Regions from separate parts of the Homo sapiens genome. Here regions 2 and 3 are each linked to region 1. Evidence: fine-mapped expression QTL. A gene starts in region 1. Each other region holds a variant in brackets. All regions are shown on one strand. Distances are between the middles of the regions. Region 1 holds the start of OSBPL11 (oxysterol binding protein like 11). Region 2 overlaps OSBPL11 (oxysterol binding protein like 11). Region 3 overlaps ZNF148 (zinc finger protein 148).

Evidence for each region.
Region 2: its variant is fine-mapped to the expression of OSBPL11 in whole blood (INTERVAL, PIP above 0.99).
Region 3: its variant is fine-mapped to the expression of OSBPL11 in substantia nigra (GTEx, PIP above 0.99).

The regions. Positions count from the first base shown.
Region 1 is chr3:125,593,001-125,597,242 of GRCh38, forward strand. It overlaps OSBPL11 (oxysterol binding protein like 11), which reads right to left and starts at 2,497. Exons shown (of 13, transcript NM_022776.5): 1 at 1,637-2,497. The coding sequence starts at 1,800. RefSeq lists enhancers at 1,025-1,084, 2,045-2,104 and a silencer at 2,205-2,614.
Region 2 is chr3:125,534,045-125,538,286 of GRCh38, forward strand. All of the region lies in intron 11 of OSBPL11 (oxysterol binding protein like 11), which reads right to left. Among named protein-coding and RNA genes, the nearest start is that of SNX4, 16 kb to the left of the region's middle. The variant C/T (reference allele first, on the strand shown) is at 2,222.
Region 3 is chr3:125,273,108-125,277,349 of GRCh38, forward strand. All of the region lies in intron 7 of ZNF148 (zinc finger protein 148), which reads right to left. Among named protein-coding and RNA genes, the nearest start is that of SLC12A8, 62 kb to the left of the region's middle. The variant A/G (reference allele first, on the strand shown) is at 2,082.

The DNA.
Region 1 (4,242 bases):
TTAGACTTCATGAAAATTAAAAACCATTGTGCTGCAAACAATATCATCAAGAAAGTTGTAAACCAAAAATAACATTCGAAGGCACCTCACAACCAACTTAATAGACTCCCGGCTCTCTCCAGACCCAAATGTGAATGCCAGGGCCGCGGCGGCGCCCCACCCACAGCCCCATAGCAGGTCAGGACGAAGCGCCACGGACAGGGGACCCGCGGCCCCTGCCACAGGTCACACACATACAAAAAAATCATGCTGATTCCAAAAGCGGGCCTAGACCTCTCAAACTAACTGAATATATCTTCTTATCCTACAGTCACTTACCAATAAAAAGTTATCTTCTGGCCAGGCGCGGTGGCTCAAGCCTGTAATCCCGGCACTTTGGGAAGCAGAGGAGGGCTGATCACTTGAGGTCAGGAGTTCGAGACCAGCCTGGCCAACATGGTGAAACCCCATCTCTACTAAAAATACAAAAATTAGCCAGGTGTGGTGGCGCACGCCTGTAATCCCAGCTACTCGGGAGGCTGAGACACGAGAATCGCTTGAACCCAGGAGGTGGAGGTGGTAGTGAGCCGAGATCGCGCCACCACACTCCAGCCTGGGTGACAGAGCCAGACTCTGCCTCAAAAAAAAAAAAAAAATTATAATCTTCTATACTTCACTTCTATATGTTAATATAGTCATGCATATTTCATACATATGAATATTATTCATGATAAATGTATATCCCTCACAAAATCTTGGCTTTAATCCCTTCCAAGTTTCACAAAAATTTCACAAGCACAAATAAGCACAAAGGCTAAAAAGGACTACAGTTAGGCACATAGGAGTCAATCAAAACTTAAGAATTCATCCCTTTAGTTCCAATACGATGGGATGTGCTGGTTTGTTTCATTCATTCTTAAGGTTCTGGATAGTTCTTTCTCCCTACACTTCATATATGAAAAAACAAAAACAAAACTTGTTGCCTCTCCAGGACTCTCCTCCTGTTCCTTAAGTTGTTCATTCATATTAGTGAAAATTAACAAATATAGACTTTCTCATCAACACAGAGAGCATTGAAGTGGCCTGAGCAACGCAAACTGAACATCTCCAGGCTCAGGTTTAGTTTATCAGAGGCATTAGGATCTCTACCTTTGTCCTTGCATTCCAATTACTTATGTACATTCCCCTTTCCAAGTCACAAATACCTTCAGGGCAAGAATCTTTTCTGATTCTGGAGAAGCTCTGGACAAGTAAGTTTTGAGCACCAGTATTTGCTACCCTCTCGAGAAAGCTGAGTTAAACAGTTCCTGCCCTCGCAGTCTATCAGAGAAAGCTGGCTTGTAAATAAATTGCAACATAGGCAAAAGCAGAAGTGAGTACAGAATTAAATCTGAGGAAGCATTAACTCTCTGACTGTAGAGGAAGTTCAGGGATACATTTCTGTGTTCCTCAAAAGGCCTTCCATAAATACCTGTTGAATGAACAAATGAATGGATTAAATCTTTTAGGCGAGGTCCCAGATCCAAACGAGATGTATCAGTAGCTTCTGGAAGCCAGTGAAAAAACTTTTATCTTTCAACAATTGCGGGATGCAGCCTCCAGGGCATATTCACCCCTACCTCCACCTCGGGAAATAATTTTGGAGAAAGGAGCATACCTGTACTGCCAGCCTTTTGCACTGCCACCGCGGCTGCTGCTGCTGCTACTGATTCCACCTCCACAGCTGCTGTTCTTGTTCGGGGTCACCGCTGTGGCCTGGCCCTCCAGCTTTCCTTCGCTCTCCGAGACTTTCATTGTGGACACTGGTTCACCCCCCTGCATCTTAACGCCAAAGTCCACTTGCCCTTCTTGAGCGGGAGAGAACAATTCTGTAGTTCTGTAGGTGACTTTTTTTTTTTAAGATTTGATCTGAATATGATACCGGTTGCTAAATCACACGGCGGCTGGGGCGGGACTGTCAAATGGTCCAGAAAAGGAAGATACACATTCCCACAGAAGTTAAACTTTTGAGAGGGCAGGGGAAGCAACGAGGACAGATATCCTTCACATGTATCTCTCTCCTTTCCGGCAAAAGCAAGGAGGAAAAAGCATCCGGCGAGAAGACTTAAGTGACATACTCAAAAGAGAAGGAGTGTGGGGAGGTCGCAGATTCTGTAGCCAAGACGGCTGGGAAAAGGACGGAGCGCCACGGACAGGGGACCCGCGGCCTAACCTCGGGGCTGACCCGCCGCGCTCCCTCGTCTCCTCCGCAGGTCCTCAGGCAGTGCGTCCAGTCAAGCCCGCTCGGCAGTTCCCGCCGCAGCCCCCGAGATACAGCCAGGGCCGGCGCGCGCAGCCGGGGAGGAGGGTCGGGGAATGAGGCCGCCGGGGGCGGGACGCCGGCTCCCGGGGCCGCCTCTCCCAGGGCCAGAGGCGAGCCACTCGGGACAACTTCCTCTTATGCCCCTGGCCCGGGCCCTCGACTGGGTTCCCAGGAGCCGGTGAGTCTCTCGCGCTATCTCCAGACCCAAGCGCGAATGCCAGGGCCGCGGCCGCCGCCCCACCCACAGCCCCACAGCCCCACAGCCCCACAGCGGGTCAGCCACCCCCCGCCCCCTGCTCCCTTCCCGCCTTCCCTTCCGGAGTAGCGTGAGCTCACTTCCCTCACAGCCGAAGCGTCTGGCGCCATCTTGGGTCAGGGCGGCGGGTCCCTGAAGGAGGCGGAGGCTCTGGGAGCTGGTAGCTGGGCGACTGGCTGATGGGCGAGGGAGGGCGAGGGAGGGCGCCGCAACGGAACGAGGAACCCGGACAGTGAAGGAGGAAGAAACAAAGGAGCCAGCAGCACTAGAGAGTTCCCTTCTGGTGTGTGAGTGCCCGCCTTCCTTTTTTTTTTTTTTTTTTTTGAGACGGAGTCTCGCTCTGTCGCCCAGGCTGGAGTGCAGTGGCGCGATCTCGGCTCACTGCAAGCTCCGCCTCCCGGATTCACGCCATTCTCCTGCCTCAGCCTCCCAAGTAGCTGGGACTACAGGCACCCGCCACTACGCCCGGCTAGTTTTTTGTATTTTTAGTAGAGACGGGGTTTCACCGTTTTAGCCGGGATGGTCTCGATCTCCTGACCTCGTGATCCGCCCGCCTCGGCCTCCCAAAGTGCTGGGATTACAGGCGTGAGCCACCGCGCCCGGCCGAGTGCCCGCCTTCCTAACCACGTCCTAGCCTTCCATTTGAGGGGCCGTTCCAGGCATTTTAGGAAGAAAGCTTACAAAAATAAGAAAGTACAAGAACGAAGCAAACATCTGTACGTTTTAGTTACTTGGGGTGGGGGGGGGGCAAGCATGACATTGGAGTAAAGCCAATCATTATTATAAATTAAAAAGAAGCTGTCATGGAAATTAGAGATCTCAGAACAGAGCTAGGTACTCTTCCAGACCCCAGACAAATCTTTCACCTTGTTTAGGCCTTGGTTTTGGATTTGTAAAACAAGAGTGCATGGGTAGATTTCTAAAGTCTCTCCTAATTGCTAATTTTAGTTTATAATAACATGACTTGAGGCTGGGCACAGTGGCTCACGCCTGTAATCCCAGCACTTTGGGAGGCCGAGGTGGGCGGATCACTTGAGGTCAGGAGTTCGAGACCAGCCTGGCCAACATGGTGAAACCCATTCTCAACTAAAAATACAAAAATTAACCGGGCATGGTGGTGCGTGCCCGTAATCCCAGCTACTTAAGAGGCTGAGACAGAAGAATCACTTGAGCCTGGGAGGCGGACGTTGCAGTGAGCCTGAGGAAGGAGAGAGACCCTCTCATATTGTTTTATACTCAGTACCTGTTTTAAGAAAAAAAGAAACAGCAAGGAAGTAAAACCAAAGACAGGCAGCCCAGCGCCAGGCCGGAAACCAGGCCTGGGCCTGCCTGGCCTAAACTCAGTAGTTAAAAATCAACTCATAACTTAGAAACCGATGTTATTCATGGATTCCAGACATTGTGCAGCAGAACATTGTGAAACTCCCTGCCCTGTTCTGTTTCTCTCTGACCACCGGTACATGCAGCCCCTGTCATGTACCGCTTGTTTGCTCAAATCAATCATGACCCTTTCATGTGAAATCTTTAGTGTCGTGAGCCCTTAAAAGGGACAGAAATTGTGCACTTGGGGAGCTCAGATTTTGAGGCAGTAGCTTGCTGATGCTCCCAGCTGGATAAAGCCCTTCCTTCTACAACTCGGTGTCTGAGAGGTTTTGTCTGCGGCTCATCCTACTAAAAGCTGAGATTGCGCCACTGCACTCCAGCC
Region 2 (4,242 bases), 59 kb before region 1:
TCAAACTCTTGGGCTTAATACACATTCGTGTCAAGGGCACATGAAACATTTACCAAGGCCAGGTGTGGTGGCTCATGAATAATTCTAGCACTTTGGGAGGCCGACGTGAGTGGATCACTTGAGGTCAGGAGTTTGAGACCAGCCTGGCCAACATGGTGAAACCCCATCTCTACTAAAAATATAAAAAAATTAGCTGGGTGTGGTGGCACACGCCTGTAGTCCCAGCTACTCGGGAGGCTGAGGCATGAGAATCGCTTGAACCAGGGAGGTGGAGGTTGCAGTGAGCCGAGACTGCATCACTGCACTCCAGCCTGGGCGACAGAGTAAGACACTACTTTGTCTTAAAAAAAAAAAAAGAAACATTTACCAAGACAGAACATATTCAGAATCATTAAACAAACCTAAATAAAGAATTAAAATCATACAAAGTATATTCTTTCACCAAAATGAAACTAAATTAGAAATAAATAATGGAAAGCTAGCTGGAAAATCTCTAAACATTTAGAAATCATCAACACATTTGTAAATAAGTTCATGAGTTAAAAAAAAAAAACCCACAAAGGAAATAAGAAAATATTTCGAAATGAAAACACATAAAAAGTCATCAGATAGAAATAAAGCAGTCCTCAGAGGAAAATTTACAGCATTAAACATTTAGGAAAAAAATATTGATGAGCTAAACCAGGGATCAAACTATGGCCCACAGCCCATTTTTGTAAATAATTTTTTATTGCAATTTAACAATGTCTCATCATTGACTTATTGTCTATGGATGTTTCATGCTATAAGGGCAGAGTTGAGTAGCTGTGGGAGAGGCTATTTGGTCCACTAAGGCTAAAATATTAATTGGCCTTTTACAGAAAAAGTTTGCTGACCCCTAACCTAAGCTTCCATTGTAAGAAATTAGAAAAAAAAAAAAAAAAAAAAAAAAAAGCAAATTATTTACAATGTAAGGAGAAAAAAAGAGATTTTATAAAAGAGCAAAATTCAATGAGAAAGAAAACAAACATAGATTAAATCAGTGAAGCCAAAATCTGGTTTTTTGTGTAAAATTAATAAACTTTTAGTCACACTGATGAGAAAAAAGATATTACAAATATAAGGAATAAGTATGGGGATATCACTATAGATCCTACACAGATAAAAAAATAAGGTAATATTAGGAACTATATGACAATAAATTTGACACATTAGCTGAAATGAACCAATTCCTTGAAAGACAAACTACCAAAGCTCACTGAAGAAACAGAAAACCTTAACAGCCCTATATATTAAACATACGTAATTTGTAATTCAAAACCTTCCCCTAAAGAAAAGAACAGAGCAATATCCCTCATGTATATAGAAACTATAAAATTCATTACAAAATTTTAGCAAATAAAATTCAGAAGCATCTTTTTTTTTTTTTTTTTTTTTTTTGAGACAGTCTGGCTCTGTCACCCAGGCTAGAGTGCAGTGGTTCAACGGCGGCTCACTGCAACCTCCACCTCCTGGGTTCAAGTGATTCTCATGCCTCAGCCTCCCGAGTAGCTGAGACTACAGGTGCACGCCACCACGCCAGGTGATTTTTGTATTTTTAGTAGAGATGCCTGGCTGATTTTTGTATTTTTAGTAGAGATGGGGTTTCACCATGTTGGCCAGGCTGGTCTTGAACTCCTGACCTCAAGTGACACACCCGCCTTGGCCTTCCAACATGCTGGGATTATAGGCGTGAGCCACCACACCGGCCCAGAAGCATCTCTTTATCTGCCCATACATTCAATCTGTGGTGATATATTGATTTAAAGTATATATAGGAAAAATCTGGGCCGGGCATGGTGGCTCAAGCCTGTAATTCCAGCACTTTGGGAGGCCGAGGTGGGCGGATCACCTGAGATCAGGAGTTCAAGACCAGCCTGACCAACATGGTGAAACCCCATCTCTATTAAAAATACAAAAAAATCAGTTGGGTGTGGTGGTGTGCACCTGTAATCCCAGCTACTTGGGAGGCTGAGGCATGAGAATCGCTTGAGCCCAGGAGGCAGAGGTTGCAGTGAGCCGAGATCATGCCACTGCACTCCAACTTAGGTGACAGAGTGAGTCCATCTCAAAAAAAAAAAAAAAATTCTGGCCTCACACAGATACAGTTTGAAAAAGAGAAGAAATATTTTTACAGATTTTTCAAATAATTCAATTCTTTCATACTGTTTCAAAACTCGACAACTGGTAATTTTAAAAAGGC[C/T]AGTTGCAATGTGGAAAATTTAAGAATGTCAATATTTTTTCAAATAACTTATATGGAAATCCACTGGTCTAATGTGCATCCTGAATGGATCATTTATCCATGCATGATTCTGTAATATCATGCATTAGTCATTTGAAAAATACTGGTTCATTGAGTTATGCAGATCTTCCAGATGTTGACATACTATACAATATTTTAAAAAATCACGTTCAATAATATAAGCACCAAGTTCACCAGAAAACTAATTGGGAAGTTTTCAAGTTCATGGTGGCAGATACAATTTTCTAAAATTCTAATTTTGCCTTGAAGCTCAAATTTTATTATTAGTAACATACCATCAATTGTTTTTCTTTAAGTATCACATTCATGTCTTTCATTTACAAGAAAAATGTCTACCTAACATTGAAATTAGAAGAACCATAGTTTGTCTATCAATCATTCTTTTAAGTAAACATGGTATTTCATGAACAAAGTGATTAATTCTGCTTGTAACTCAAAAAATTTTACAAGTGCTCTTCCTCCAGATAACTACTATATTTCTTCGGTAGCCAGCACAAATACTTATTTATATTCCCAATTTGTCATACAGAATACTAATAAGACATGTACTCGGCCAGGCACGGTGGCTCATGCCTGTAATCCCAGCACTTTGGGAGGCTGAGGTGGCAGGATCACTTGAGGTCAGAAGTTCACGACCAGCCTGGCCAACATGGTGAAACCCCGTCTCTACTACAAATACAAAAAATTAGCCAGGCGTGGTGGTCGATGCCTGCAGTCCCAGCTACTCAGGAGGCTGAGGCAGGAGGATCACTTGAACCTAGGAGGTGGAAGTTGCAGGGAGCCGAGATCGCCCGACCACACTCCAGCCTGGGTGACAGGGTGAGACCCTGTCTCAAAAAAAAAAAAAAAAAAAGACATGTACTCAGTAATCCAGATTTTAAAAAAACTAATAATTTGTATTGCTTTTTCAAGGACATCTTAAGAGAAAGGGGCATGCGAGTACATGGCAGTGAAGAATATAATGACTGCTTGTGACGTTTGGTGCCACTGCCTAGATTAGTCCTAAGGCCCACCAGTGCTACCCACAGCATTCCTTTTGCACCATCATAAGAGCCCACAGAGTGAAAAATGATAAATAATATCTCTGTATTGTTATAAACAAATTGTGAACTTGCAGATGCCCTGAAAAGGTCTCAAGGACCCAACAGGGGTCTGCAAAGCAAACTTTGAGACCCTCTCCTTAGGATAAATCCCTGTAAGAATTCTTTAAAAATTCATTATTGCTGTTATTTTTTGACCCACTCTGAATGTTTGATTGTGGACATTTAATCCCTTTTCACACCTAGTTAGAAATTGTTTGGTTCTATTTATGTGATCTTAATGTAAGATGTTTAGTGGTTCCCTGTATATTTTTTTTCTATTTTTAATTGATAGAAGGACATTTTATGTCCCTCATGACATAAAATTTAAACAGTACAAATAGGAATCTTGTAAAAATTAAGTCTCTTTCCTATTCCAGATCCCAGTACTCTTTTCCAGAAGCAACCACTGTCAACACATTTTGGAAGCTGTACCTTATTAACACGTATAGATCCACTTTATTTTTCAAGGTCTATGACACATACTGCCAAAATAACCTCTACAAAGATTGCACTGGTTTAACATCTAATCAGCAGCATGAAAATGCCCATTTGCTCACACCTTTTCCCCAAAGAAGTATTATTTTAAAAACTAATTTGTCTGATTAATTTGTACCTCTGAATTCTAATTACCCTAAACAATTTTTCATTTCCTTGGTTGAGCATTTAAGATGTTCCGATATTTTTGCACTACCTCTTTACATCCTTTGCCCAGTTTTTGTATTGGGGTGCCTGACTTTTTGTTAATAATATAACAAAATTTTTTATGATAAAGTTTTTATGATACACACAGTAATTCTTTGACAGTAAATGTTTTTAATATTTTTGCTCCATTTACAATGTTTGGTTTTTACTAAAATGTGACTGTATATCAAAGAATCT
Region 3 (4,242 bases), 320 kb before region 1:
TCGATAACTGAACCATACTAAGGGAAATATAAAGGGTTAAGCTAAGTTAGTCAAGAGTAAATCAACATTCTCTCTAACCCCACCCCATTAGCCCAACTGGTTTACAAAAATAAGATGCTGTTATTATTCAGCTATTTAATACAGCTATTTAATACAGTTGTGAATAAAAGTCATAGTAAAGAGAAAAAGAGGACTGCTGTGTTTTCAGGCATGAAGAACACTAACTTAGATGACAGGTTTTCCAGTGTTTTTATATTTTTACAGAGAGAACTGTATACATCTAAGAACTAAAGGCTTAAAAAAGAACCTTATGGAAAAAGAAACCTAGTGAACATATATAATTCTGAGTGATTTAGTTTTTTCAAAAATCTCTTTTTTTTGGGAAGAGAATCTTTTTTTTTTTTTTGAGACGGAGTCTTGCTCTGCTGCCCAGGCTGGAGTGCAATGGCATGCTCTGCTCACCACAACCTCCGCCTCCCAGGTTCAGGCGATTCTCCTGCCTCAGCCTCCCGAGTAGCTAGGACTAAAGGCATGTGCCACCACGCCTGGCTAATTTTTGTATTTTTAGTAGAGATTGGGTTTCACTATGTTCTCAAACTCCTGACCTCGTGATCCGCCTGCCGTGGCCTCCCAAAGTGCTGGGATTACAGCGTGAGCCACCGCACCCGGCCGGGAGGAGAATCATTTATAAAAACTTCCCTATAGAAATAGCTTCGTAACATTTTTACTAATTGAAATAAAAAATAAATTATGAAAACTGGCATAACTAAAAAGCTACCATAATTTGTATAACAGAACATCAGGATAGGTATTCTGTGGCTTACTATTTAGAGGAATTTACAAAAATAAAATTAAAAATTGTACTTAAGTTTTTTACTCCTCAATCCCTCTTGGTGATAAGACTGGCAGTTTCTTAGAGTAAAATGCTCACGGGGTGAGAAGAAAATAACACAACTATGGATATATGCCATTCTAACATTTATTCTATATATGCATTTTTAAAATAGGCACCTTAGACAAGGAAAGGGCACGTCAGACAAAAGTACTTGATCCACAAGGAAATCTGCCAATGATGATAAATGTTTAACCTTGATATGCGCTTGATCAGTAATCCTGGCCCTAAACAAAATGATCAATTATAATTATCTTCGACCTTAGCCTCAAATCCTCATCTTCTCTCTCACATCCAAAACATCACCTAAATAAAGGATCTGTAATATTCACAAAAAATATAATATTCACAAAAAAGGTAAATCTCCCATAACTGCCAAAAATAGCAGTCCTGAGGATATTTACAATGTGGCAGTTTTCAGTGCCATAGTCTAAAGGAATAAAGCTTAAACCAGAATTTCAGGGACCAGCCTCTGGATGAAAAAGTACTCTCCCCTAAAATGGTGTTTCATAGACAAGCCCAAATGTAGGAAATGGAATTAAATAATAGCCTGTCTAGAGCACATTAAAAATTTTTCCTTTTGAACCCAAATCAACTATGTTCTTGGTTTTAATAAGACACAGGTTTCTTTATTGTTGGCCACAGCTACCAAGCAAGTAATGATTTTTAACTATGTTGCAAAGGGGCAGAGAATGGGCTTGGAGGCCTGAGGGACCAGGAGAAGACAGTATAATGAGACCTAAAGGGAGAAGGAAGGATGTATGGAAAATGGAGCCTTTAAGGGCAGATGGTTTTCACCAACCTTTGAGGGTCGGTTAGGTGACTCATTACTCATTTGACAATTTAAAAATGGATAAAAATATGGAAAATCTTTTTTAATGCCGTAACTATTTAAATGCATTCTTCTAAACTAAGGGCCTACAAATAAAGAAAGCCTTCACATGGGCAAACTTCAGGGCACTACCCTCCTCCAAAAATAAAAGTCACTTAGAAAATGAAAGGAAGAACAGTAAGAACAGAATAATAAATGATGGAGACCTATTTGTGGTTCTAGATATATATTCCCAAATAGGTTTAACAAAAAACATTTTACTGTCTTTAAAAAGAATCTATAAAAAGAATCAAGAATACGAAGTAAAGAAGGGAAAACTATCCCCTTATATCAGTTCCACCTAGTAGGGAGGGAACA[A/G]TAGGGCAGAATTGATTCTCTCTTCAAAAGAACTTTTCTTTGTTAAGGAACCCTAGTGATTGCTTTGCCCTGGTTCCTCTCAACTCCTTATCTTCTTCTACACTGTTCTCTCTAACATGAGAACTCCAGCCTTTGCTTCTACCACTTTTAGATGCTACTATACCTATAGGAAGGCTAAGCCATAATTGGCTTAGTGACAGAGCAAGAAAAACTCAAAAAGGCCCAAATATAACTTTCTGCTTCTAGTCCCATTCTGCATAGCCAGTGATTTCACATGTGTACTCTGGACTCACAGAGGCTTGAGCTGAAATCTTGGTTCCATCATTTACTAGATATATACATTTGGGAAAGTTCCTTAACTTATGTGCACTTCTTACTACCTCCTCATCTATAAAATGGGGACAGTAATAACTCCTGCCTTTCAAGATTAATGTGAGGACTAAATGAGATATTTAACACAGTTTTCTGGTACTTAGTAAATTCTAAACAAACATTAACAACCCATTATACTCTGCTTAAATCCAAGATTCCCCATGGTCTAGTGCAGTTGATTACAGGATTGTGACCAGCACTTTTTTAAAAAAAGAATTCATACTCACACACAAAATATCACAGTGCAATGAAGGTGAGTATTGTTTCAAAAATATTTTTTTCAGATACACACCCACCCACACACATATATTCTTAACTTAGCCTCATGTGGCTTTTCTGTGACACCTGCCCTAAGAACGGACAGCACATGTGTCTCTTCCTCAGGGCACAATAGTATCTTGAGAATTTTGTATAAAATTCTACAACACTTAACTGCACTGTGCTTGCTTATATGTGTGTTTTTCCACGTCTGTTTTTCCACAAGAACGTAAACTCCAAAGAAAGAAACTGCCTTCTGTTATCTATTTCTGGTGCTTGAAAAACACTGGATGCTCAATAAATTTTTGTTGAATGAATGAGTAAAATATCAAAACCTATTAGGTATTAAGAACACACAAAAATAATCACTTTCATTTGTATCTGATCAGGTTTTATTGTTATATAGGAATTTAAATTTAGCTATAAGTCACACAAAATCTATAAATTTTTTTCTCCCACAGTGCCTAGTATAGCCCCTTCTAATAAAAAGAGATGAATACGTTTACTTAAAAAACTGAAACTAGTAATGTGCAAAATGATTGTTAAAAAGTAGAACATCCAAGCATACAGACATGTTGCACAGTTAAAGTTTTATTTATTTATTTATTTATTTATTTTATTTATTTATTTTTGAGACGGAGTTTCACTCTTATTGCCCAGGCTGGAGTGCAATGGCGCGATCTCGACTCACCGCAACCTCCGCCTCCCGGGTTCAAGCAATTCTCCTGCCTCAGCCTCCCGAGTAGCTGGGATTACAGGCATGTGCTACCATGCCCGGCTAATTTTGTATTTTTAGTAGAGACGGGGTTTCTTCCATGTTGGTCAGGCTGGTATCGAACTCCCGACCTCAAGTGATCCGCCCACCTCAGCCTCCCAAAGTGCTGAGATTACAGGCATGAGCCACTGAGCCCAGCCCAGTTAAAGTTTTATTTAAGCAGACCAGACACATTCAGGCTTCTTTTTGGGGGCAAAGAAAATTGAAAAAAAAGTTATCAGACAGAAAAGGTTGTTTCTATATGACAAACTGTCCTTTCACAAATACTGCAGGTCCCATGAGAACACATCAAAATAACAACACTGGGCAGGTACTTGCTTGAGTACTTAAAACAGAAAAATATGAAGAACTTAAATATTTTCAATATTCTCATATTATCACAATTCTCAATTCTATTCAAATGTAAAATTCAAAGTTATACAAATTTACCAACTCTGCTTTTATTCCATCACAAAAAGCAAAACACTGGAAATCAATTCTAAAGAAACACTTTTCAACATGCTTAGAGGCAACAAAGGCAAAGTCAACAGACTACTAAATCAAAGTTACTTATAAAAGTTGGTTTTACCGTTGGCAAAAATAGATGCAAATAAATATTTGCTCTAAAATGAGACTTAGGTTTTTACGGTATGTGTTCCTTTATAGTAATCCTCTAGAATATTTAATTTCTAAATCATTAATAACTTGACTGAGAAATTGGCAGTTCTCAACTTTTTAAGATTACATGTCTAAGGGTAAGGTATATACATGAAAGGG